Linked DNA regions of Homo sapiens. The protein of the gene in region 2 purifies or fractionates together with the protein of the main gene of each other region. This does not show direct contact. Each region holds a gene or a part of one and is shown on either strand. Other genes may lie near its edges.

The links. Proteins that work in one complex are often made in the same cells at the same time.
Region 1: the proteins of TGFBI (region 2) and SULF2 purify together in Homo sapiens (co-immunoprecipitation; one large-scale study listed by IntAct). This does not show direct contact.
Region 3: the proteins of TGFBI (region 2) and KIF13B purify together in Homo sapiens (affinity purification with mass spectrometry; one large-scale study listed by BioGRID and IntAct). This does not show direct contact.

Annotation. Positions count from the first base shown.
Region 1 is NC_000020.11:47,666,982-47,670,481, reverse strand, and holds part of SULF2 (extracellular sulfatase Sulf-2 isoform a precursor), read left to right. Parts: intron 1-3,500. UniProt on the Homo sapiens protein: Exhibits arylsulfatase activity and highly specific endoglucosamine-6-sulfatase activity. It can remove sulfate from the C-6 position of glucosamine within specific subregions of intact heparin.
Region 2 is NC_000005.10:136,035,488-136,038,987, forward strand, and holds part of TGFBI (transforming growth factor-beta-induced protein ig-h3 precursor), read left to right. Parts: intron 1-3,500.
Region 3 is NC_000008.11:29,071,071-29,074,570, reverse strand, and holds part of KIF13B (kinesin-like protein KIF13B), read left to right. Parts: intron 1-2,254; coding exon 2,255-2,951; intron 2,952-3,500. UniProt on the Homo sapiens protein: Involved in reorganization of the cortical cytoskeleton. Regulates axon formation by promoting the formation of extra axons. May be functionally important for the intracellular trafficking of MAGUKs and associated protein complexes.

The sequences.
Region 1 (3,500 bases), on a different chromosome or scaffold from region 2:
AGTGGCTCACGCCTGTAATCCCAGCATTTCGGGAGGCCAAGGCAGGCGGATTGCCTGAGCTCAGAAGTTCGAGACCAGTCTGGCCAACAAGGTGAAACCCGTGTCTACTAAAAATACAAAAATTAGCCAGGCATGGTGGTGGGCGCCTGTAGTCCCTGCTACTCAGGAGGCTGAGGCACTAGAATGGCTTGAACCTGGGAGCGGGAGGTTGCAGTGAACTGAGATCATGCCACTTCACTCCAGCCTGGGTGACAGAGCAAGACTGTCTCAAAAAAAACAAAAAGTCTCCATTCTTTATAAGACGGATGATATTGTACCACAGACTAGTTAGAGATTGAGGTCTCTGACGGCAGGCGCAGTGATCTCCTCTGGTCCAGCCAGCCAGGCAGCAAATGTCTTCATCGTGGAGCAGATAAGTCTCTCTCCATAACAGCCCAGCCACTGCCTGAAACACCGTTTCCCAGCTGATGACCCTCCGTTACATTTCCTCACCAGCTGATTAGGAACTACTACATTAACTTTTCTAGCTGAACAGAATGATTGGTTTCCAGATTGGATTACACAGCCAGCATCTCCTTGCTTCAATATGTGGCACAGTCGATAATCTTTAAATAATACAAGATCTGGCAGGGAGAAATTCAGCTCTTTTCCCCTTATTAATGCTTAGAGGAAAGAAAAATACCTAAAAGTAGCTGAGAGTCAGCTCAGCCCTGGTCAGAATCCTCATGTGAGTGTAATGTCAGAGCCGGGACCTGCACCTCTCAACAGCCCTGTGAGCAGGGCAGGGGTGATCATCAGGGGATGATGGACAGGAAAGACTGGGTCACGTGGCTGATTTGGGGACTCCAGCCCCATCTCCTGCCTGGCATTCTTCCCCCTGCTAGAGTCTCCGACAAGACACTCTGTCCCTCTTTTCTGAGCAGTCAGCCTAGAGCAGGCTGAACTGGGGGCTTTCTGTCCCCCAGGGGACACTTGGCAATGTTTGGAGACAGTTTTGGCTGTCACAATTGTGTGTGATGGAGGGGTGCTGCTGGCGTCTAGTGAGCAGAGGCTATGGATGCGGCAAAACATCTTGCAACGCACAGGACGGCCCCCACCACAGAGTTTGATCTGACCCCAAAGTGTCCGCAGTGGTAAGGTTGGGAAGCCCTGGCCCACCTTGATCCACGGGGATCCTGGCTGTGGCGTGGGGAGGTTAGGCAGAGCCAGCCAGCTCACAGCAGAAGGGGGACCCAGGAACAGGAGAAGGGGACGAGGACTCGGGGGATGGGCCCAGCTGACTGGGGTTCATTCATTTCTTGAACTTTGTGCAAGACACTGAGATTAGAGTTGACCTGGAGAGACACGGACTTGGACCTCATGGATGAAACAAGATGTGAACAAGTGAACAAAGGGCCACTTCCGCTGGTGAAAAACGCATGAAGGAGACGCAGCGGTGGCGGGACTAGCAGAGAGGGGTGGCGGCTCCAGAATGGCGCTCAATGGACATTTAATGAGAACAAAGTACAGAAAGGAGCAGGTCTTGTGACCAGCCAGAGAGCAAGTGTTCTGAGGAGGAGGAAGATGGAGTACAAAGACCCTGTGCTCAGAATCAGGGCGGTGAGTCCCAGTCACAGAGAGGTGACCGGTGTGGCCGAGGGTGGTGAGAAGCACCATGGGCATGGGCAGCCACATCACACAGGCGGTCACCGGCGTGGAGAGGCAGGGAGTGGGCCCAGGGTTGTCACCTTAGGTGAGGACGTCAGCTGCAGGCAGAGTCCCCACCCCCTGCAGTAGCTGGTCCACACCAGCTCATCAGGCATGAATGCTTCACTAGTTCCGTTTCGTGCCATCCTCCAAGGAGCCTTTGTAGGGTAGGCACCATCCTGAGAAGTTACCCAAATCGCCGGGGCCACACATGTGCTCAGGGGTTTGCACCTGAGCCATCTGATTGCAGAGTCAAAGCTCTTGGCCGCCGGGTTATGAAGTCCTGTCCCATTCCCTGTTGGTGTGGCAGGAAGGGTACCTCCAGGACTCTGGACATGAACACAGAGTGATGGGGAGAGCAGGTAGTGTGGCTTCAGTCCAGGAAAGGATTCACACAGGGCTGGCATACCGCTTCTGTGAAGAGCCAGAGAGTAAAGGTCTTGGGCTTTGCAACTCAGCCCTGCGACTGCAGAGGTATAAGGGAATGCGAGCAGCTGTACCCAGTGAAACTGTATTCACAAAGACAGATGGAGGCTGGCCTGGGCCCTTAGGCCATGGTTTAGGGACCCCTGAATCTAGAGCTGGGAGATGGAGGGTGGAAAGAGGCAAAGCAGCTCACTTATGAGCCGACTGAGACAAAAGGAGTGGAGAGGACACGCTGGGTCTATTTCCTGAGCCTCTCGGGGCAGGACCTGCTTGGCACAGGGACCATCCTCGGCAATTTGTGTACTTGCATCGGGAGACTAAACCGAGGGAGAGAAGTGCCCAGGAGAAGGCTGCCCTGTGTCAGAAAAGGCCCAAGGCTCTGCTGGAGAGGGGAGGCCTTTCCCGGCCCCTCAGGATCCTTCGGCCCTTGTGACTCTGATGCAAGGTGTCTGAGAACTGAAAGATACAAAACATCCCCCAAGAGTGGGGGTGGCACCCGGGCCACGTGAGAAGGGAGCCCTTTCCTCCCTCCTTCCACTGCCTTCCGCCACCACCTGCCTCCAGCTGGTCCTCTTTGGTCACCATCTCGGGGTCACTTGGGATCCAACAAAACCTGGGTCACTAACTGGCTCCAGGCCCTTCTCTTTAAATGAGGCACATCTGGAGAAGGATGACAACTGCAGTGCGTGCCTGCTGGGGCCAGACATGTGTCAGGTGGGCAGAGGTTTTAAAACAGGAAGGAGTGGCGGGGGCTGTGGCCAACAGGGAAGACAGTGGGCAGCCAAAGGGGCCGCCCATCCCCGGCCCGTCCTGACCATATGGAACTGTGGGCCCGTGAGACATCTGTTTCCTTTCTGGAAGCTGGAAATCTGGATCCCTACATCACCGCCACCACCTCCCCTTTTTCTTTAATGTTACCAACTCAGATTTGTTTTTGAGACATAGAAGATACAGGCTACCTGGGGTGTCACTTCAGCCTGCACCCCTGAGTTTTCAGCGTCAGGGCGTATGCAAAAGCCCCCCTCAGCCTTGTTGCCGGCCCACCTGGGTGTAGCACCTGCCTACCACCTGGTGGGCAGCCTCCAGCTCTCTGGGACTCAAAGAAGCTAAGTGGCTTCCCCAGTCCCCGTCCATTTCTACCCAGAGACAGGCACTGCAGGGCCCCTTTTTCCCAGTTTAAATCAACATTTTTACATCCATGATACTTTTTTTCCTTTTTAATTGAGGTGAAGTTCAGATAACATCAAACTCACCATTTTTACAATTATATACAATGCAGAGGCATTTAATAGGTTCACAGTGTTGCACACCTCTACCTAGTTCCAAAACATTTCATCACCCCAAAAGGGAACCCCGTACCCACAAAGCAGTCACTCCTCACTACCCTC
Region 2 (3,500 bases):
GGTGGCGGGCACCTGTAGTCCCAGCTACTCGGGAGGCTGAGGCAGGAGAATGGCGTGAACCTGGGAGGCGGAGCTTGCAGTGAGCCAAGATCGTGCCACTGCAGTCCAGCCTGGGTGACAGAGTGAGACACCGTCTCAAAAAAAAAAAAAAAAAAAGAAAAGAAAACCTTTAGTACTGATTGATTTTTTCCCATGTGTGTATATTATCTACTCAAATTAACAATTAATTACTTAATTAAACACAAAGCCAGGCCTCACCTAATTGCTTCTTGGAAGGTGACCAGAGTGCTAGTGCCAAGCAAACAACTCTTCTATATCTCAAGAGCCCTGGGCTTCAGAGGGCCATCTTTTTTGTTAATTCAAGTTTCTCTGAAAATGGAGACCCGTTTATGATGACAAGCTGGCTACAGGGTAGCATCTGCCACACTGTTTCGGGGGTGCCGCTGGGCTGAAGCATTTGCCCAGCTAGTTAACAATAGCTCGATAACATTCCCTATCAGTGTCCAGGCTGAGAATACTGTCAGTGATGAGTCGCCTTGGCTCTTGTACCTGTATCTTTGTGTGCCAGGACAAGGCACAAGCAACAGAGCTGTGTGTTGCCAAAATGTTCCTGATGAGCAGGTCAACCCCTCGGGGGCAGGTTTGGATATGATAATGTGGTGATGTGGTGGCGCAGCTCCCTTACCCAGTGAGCACAAGGGGAGTCCTCTAGGAAAAGGAAGAAATGTCTGGATGAGGTGGGGAGATGGGGTTCAGAGTGGACTCAGGCAAAGCCCGATGCCCAGTCCCAGCTGTTGGCCTAGTCTCACAAAGCCAGAAGGATATGACATTTACATTCAACTCTTGAATTTGTGGCCACTGCTTTGGGCAACTTCAAAGAGAGAAAATGAAGATAGAAAAATATTATTTGATATAAAACTTCTAGGACAAGAGAGGCCCTTCCTGGAACATTACATGTAGTATTAGGAAGGTGGAGCTGCCCTGGAAAAGATCCAGAGAACTCAGAGAGAGGAAGAGGTGGAACCCATCTCTGTTCTTGTAGAGAGCTCAGTAAGAGTGGCTTGGCAGGGCTCCTGTGTACCTGAGACCAAGACCAGTGAGGAGGCTACTGTCTGACCACCATACGGTCAGAATTCAGTGCCATGGGTGGTCAGGTGGGAAGGGGAGAGGACTGTGCTGGCTGGAGTTGATGTTATCCTGGGGAAAGTAGGTCCCTAGATGCCTTTAGTTGAGTGAGGAGCAGACTGGGAAATGGGAGCACAGTAGTGGTTGGGGCAAAAAGGACTGTCTCTGCATGAGGTCCATAGGCAGTTGGAATTTTCTCAGCAAGACTCCAGAGAAGGAGGCTGGAGCAGAGGTGTATGTTGGGATGAAAAGGAGTAAAGTATCATGGGGGAGGAGGCAGCTCAGGTTGTCAAGGGTCAAGAAACCAGAAGGAGAATTTCACCTTGGAAGCAGACAACGGGTACCAAGCATACAGGGGAATACTTTGTGGTGAGAGGTCACACAGAGATACAGGAGCCGACCTGGTGAGACAGGAGCCTGGAGCCACCTGCCTGCTTTTGTGAGGCCCCAGACTCCACTGCTATCATCAGGTGAAGCTCTGTTGCCTGCACACAAAAGCTTTTCTGCATTTACAAAGAGAGAAGGGCCTGAGTTTCTGGTGCAATGCGTCAAGCTGACATATGGACTTTATTACAGGAAGTGGTTACCAGTGGGTCCCTATTTAGTGGCTGTTATTGTGAATTTTATTGTTCGGAAATTCACTTTAGCATTTATTTCAGATCCTAAATAGCACCGGAGTGATACAATGGCTAATCAAACAAAGAGGGCTGTGGGGAGCAGACAGTCAGCATCCCCCTCTGTGATTTCAGGCCCTGGTTTGATTAGTAGCCATAAAATTTTTTACGTGTGGCACTTTGAGCAAAGGTGCAGGAAATTGTGGTCAGGAAGCCTGGCTGCCTCTCGACAGGCTTCCTTTGTGCTAGCCCCAGGGAGAGGAGGCCTATTTAACAGCCAAGTCCAAGTTGACATCATGGGACTGGAATAGTCATAGCAGGAGCTCAGACATCATAAACGTGGCATAGGGAGGGCTGGTGGAGGAGCTAGCGGGTATGGGTGGCAGCTATTCATTCCAAAAGTCTTGAAATTGTTTCACGAGCAACACATTTCACAAGTGCGAAGCCCTTCTCTGGAGCCAAGATGAGCTGGCAGAGCACTCCTGTTTCTCTAGTAGCAAGTGTTCCTTTGCCCAGGGGCAAAAATATTAATACTCCTTCAGCACTGCATTAATGCTTAAAGATTTAACTTTTAAAGAGATCAGCTGGTGCATGGTCGAGCTTTTCCATCAGCTGGCAGGGCTTTTTCAGTAGGTGTCCTTCTGGGCAGGGCACTGGGGACAGCTGACGTGAAGGTGAAGAAGAGCTGTCGTTTTCCTCCCTTATATCCCACAACCTTGGTCCCAAGAGGAAAAAAAAGAAGATGGTGAGAAGTCATCCAAGCAGACCCCAGACCCATACTAGTGCCTCCTTTCCTGTTTCATATCCCTGTGCAGCCAGCTGGGATCTCTTGAATAATCTGCTCTGGGGGCACTGAGATTGGACATACACCAAACAGCGGAGATCGACCAAACGCCTCTGTTGGGCAGTGTTTCCTGAGGGTTCTGTCCCATTCTGTAAACTAGGAGGCTGACTAGCTGACAAGGAATTTTATTCTGTTGGGTATTTACATGAACCTATGTGCCACCTGGGGTAAGACCCTGTGGTAGGTAGAAACATGACTTCCCAAAAATGTCCACATCCTAATCTCTAATTCTGTAAATATATTCCCTTACTGGAAAAAGAGACTTTGCAGGTGTGATTAAATTAAGGATCATAAGAGGGAGAGATTATCCAGGATTATTTGATGAGTCTAATATAATCATCAGGGTACTTAAAAGAGGGAGGCAGGCTGTGCCTGGTGGTTCACGCCTTTAATCCCAGCACTTTGGGAGACTGAGGCGAGCGGGTCACGAGGACAGGAGTTGGAGACCAGCCTGACCAACATGGTGAAACTCCCCCTCTAGTAAAAAAAAAAATACAAAAATTAGCCAGGCATGGTGGTACACACCTGTAATCCCAGCTACTCAGGAGGCTGAGGCGGGAGAATTGCTTGAACCCAGGAGGCAGAGGTTGTGGTGAGCTGAGATCGCACCACTGCCCTCCAGCCTGGGCAACAGAGCAAGACTCCATCTCAAAAAAAAAAAAAGAGGGAGGCAGTGGGATCAGAGTCAGAGAAGGCAACGTGATGATGAAAGCTGACATTTGAGTGATGCAACCACAAGCCAAGGAATGCAGGCAGCTTCTCAAAGCTGGAAAGGACGAGCAATGGATTCTTCCCTACAGCCTCTGTGAGGAATGCAGCCTTTGATTTTAACCCCATAAGGCCGATTTCTGACTCTAGCCTCTGGAATTGTAAGATAATTTGCATGATCTCAAGCCACTAAATTTGTGGTAATTTGT
Region 3 (3,500 bases), on a different chromosome or scaffold from region 2:
TGGTCAGAGCAAGCCCCTTGCCAGTGAAGGCAGCAGCTTCTGTAGCTCATCATGGTGGTTTTCCAAGCTTGGGCTTTTGCAGAAGTCTCCAGAAATGTCTTCTTCAGTGGCAAGGGTATAATCCATAGATGGCATCTGGGTTTCAACTCACAAATCAACTCCAGTCAAGTGGGGATGGGGCCTGGAGTGCCAGTCTGTGCTTTCCACCATCCTGCTCCCTGCTTTGTTGACTCTGCAGCTCTGCCCCCAGTGCCTGCCTTTTCACTTAGTGCAGCCTTGGATGAGGGCTTTCCCCTCTGGAGGCCTGCTGTAGAATAATGCCATGATCCTTCCAGCCCAGCCCAAGCCAGTGTCTTACATGGAAGCCAATGGGATGATGATACTTGCAAATCTGAGGCATGCAGCTGGCCTCATCCTGGGAGAGCCTGGCCTGGGGAAGTGACAGTGGCTGGCCTTACCCGGGGTGGGGGCGGGGAACAGAAGCCATTTCAGGACCCTGGTTACCGTTCAGATTCCCGGCTCTCATAGTTTTGCGTATTCTCCCCTGTTGGGTCAGTGATATTAAAACTAAAATAGAAGAGAATAAATAAAACATGGACAATGTGCAAAGGAAGAATGATTGAAGGATTGCCTAATCTTTTAGAGTATTTATGCTGGTGACAGTTATTGATCTATTGGATTGAGTAAATTTTGCAGCCTAGAGATTCACCACAAAAATGGGCTGTTAATCTCAAGAGGTGCCATTAATTTCCTACCCTGAAAGTGTGGTTGGTGGGGAAAAGAGGGCCCCTGGAAACGGGAATATAAAGGACAGTTCCTGGGAAAACGCATGATTTATCAAGCTGCTGAGGTAAGCCAAGTAACTGTAAGAGACGTATAGATCTCAGCCGCTTCCCCATTCAAATAAATCCCGTATTTCAAATGGAAAATGACCATTCCTGTAATATAAATAATTTTTCCATAAATATCGGAAAACATATTTCTTCTGGATAGCAGTGCTCTCCACCCCACCAATCTCATTCCCTGTTCCTGCCTTCTCCTTTTCTTCGGTCACTGTGAATAGGAATAGAAAGATGATCTGGCAGCCTCTTCACATGGCTTCAGTTATAGATGAAAGAATGCCCCAGAAACAATAGGATTTGGGCAAGCGGTGGCTGCTCTCCCCCATGAGATGTGGGCTTTGAGTGTGTGTGTGTCCTCTGCCTGGGTGACTCAGACAGAGTGACCGACATGAGGAGAGCTGCTGGCCTCACTTGGTGGCTTCTCCCTGGGGGCTGCTTCCTGGCCTCTCTCCAGGGTCCGAGGCCCCCCCAGCCCCTGACATGGCACCTGCTTTCCATAGCAGCCAGAGCAGCAGCCTTGGAGAGAAAGGGCCACGGCCCACAGGGAGCCTTTGTCCCCTCCTCATCCCCCTCCTCGTCCCCCTCCTCGTCCCCCTCCTCGTCCCCCTCCTCGTCCCCCTCCTCGTCCCCCTCCTCATACCCCTCCTCGTACCCCTCCTCGTCCCCCTGCTGCCTTGCTCGGGATGCCCAGCCAGGCTGCAGGCCCGTGGCTCCTTGTTGGTGCCTGAGCTGGCCAGGCTGTGCTGAGTGTGTTCCGGTCCTCCGATGAGATCATTGTTTAGGTTTTGCCGGACAAAAAAGTGCTCTTCTGGTCTCTTTAGTGACTCAGTCTCTTCGTGAGGTTGGGGGTGGGCAGGGGCTTTGTCTCCATGGGAGGAAAGCTAACTAGCCCTAGCAGGGTTTTAGCGTGCACCTACTGTGTGCTGCCCTCTGTGGCGAGGGGCCTTGGTCTTTGTAGCGTGCTGGCCCTGCATGGCAGGCCCTGGATTCTATTTTGTATGAAAGGTAAAAAGTAGATGGGGCAGGGGCTGTGGCCATGGTCAGTGCTCTTGAGCCTGGGCACACAGCACAGGGCCTGCGGGGTGCACTGTCGGCCCCTCAACCTTTATCACTTTGGAAGCCAGGGCCATGCAGCCCTAAGTGGCAGAACCAGTGTGGGAACCAGGGCCTGGCCGGGTCCCAGCCATGTTCTTTATTTATTTATTTTGTCGAAACGGGGTCTCACTATGTTGCCCAGGCTGTTCTTGAACTCCTGGGCTCAAGCGATCTTCCGTCTTGCCCTCCATAAGCACTGGGGTTACAGGCTGAGCCACTGCCCCTGGCCTCATGCTCTTTTCCAAGTCAAAGCTGCCTGCTTGGTTCGTGTTGGAAAGTTTTCTGTTCTCAGCCCCTGCTTCCCCGTCCTGCTGCAGGCTCAGCCGGAGATGGGCCCTGACGTGCTGGTGCAGACGATGGGGGCCCCGGCCTTGAAGATCTGCGACAAACCTGCCAAAGTGCCTTCCCCACCGCCTGTCATAGCTGTCACAGCGGTCACCCCGGCTCCGGAGGCACAGGACGGGCCCCCCAGCCCCCTGAGTGAAGCCTCTAGCGGGTACTTCTCCCACAGCGTCTCCACCGCGACCCTGTCGGACGCCCTGGGCCCCGGCCTGGACGCTGCGGCCCCGCCGGGGTCCATGCCCACCGCCCCTGAGGCCGAGCCCGAGGCGCCCATCAGCCACCCCCCACCGCCCACGGCCGTCCCCGCCGAGGAGCCCCCTGGCCCCCAGCAGCTCGTGAGCCCCGGTCGGGAGCGCCCCGACCTCGAGGCCCCGGCGCCCGGCTCCCCGTTCCGCGTCCGGAGGGTGCGGGCCTCGGAGTTGCGCTCCTTCTCGCGCATGCTGGCTGGGGACCCCGGCTGCTCCCCGGGGGCCGAGGGGAATGCGCCGGCCCCGGGCGCCGGGGGACAGGCCCTGGCCTCTGATTCCGAGGAAGCTGACGAGGTCCCGGAGTGGCTCCGAGAGGGCGAGTTCGTCACCGTGGGCGCCCACAAAACGGGCGTGGTGAGATACGTGGGGCCTGCCGACTTCCAAGAGGGCACGTGGGTCGGCGTGGAGCTCGACCTGCCCTCAGGTGGGTACCGGGCACTCCGGGCTCCAGGGTGGTGCCGGGGGTCTGGGGAAGCAGGAACGTGGCCGGCCTGGGAGGGGACAGGGTCCGGGCAGGAGAGGGAGGGGCCGGGAGGCAGCGGCTTGGCTGAAGCTGCGGGAGCGGCTGGGCCTGCAGGGGTGAGGCTGGGGGCAGGGCTAGTCCCTGGAGACGACATGGAAAATTCCTGATGATTTTGGCTACAAAGATCCTGTACCCATCCCCCCATCGCCATGGCTGTTCCCGCTTTTGTTCCGGTCTCCCCTGCCCTCTGCACTCCCTGGGCTCTGCTTTCTCATCCTTCACCTTAGAGCATCTCCCCTTTGCCGTTCCAGGAGGCTCTTCCTCACCCCATCCGGACACATCTCGCTGGCCTCTGACTCGCCCTCATTTGGCAGTTTTGCCAGTTTCCATTTCATAGATTCAGCAAAAGAACCATTCTCCCGCCACCCAGCCCAGGCCTGGGTCCAGATGGAGAAGGGTCTGTTCCCGCACGAGGCGGGCCGGTTGTGCCTTAGTGGCTGGCCTGCACCT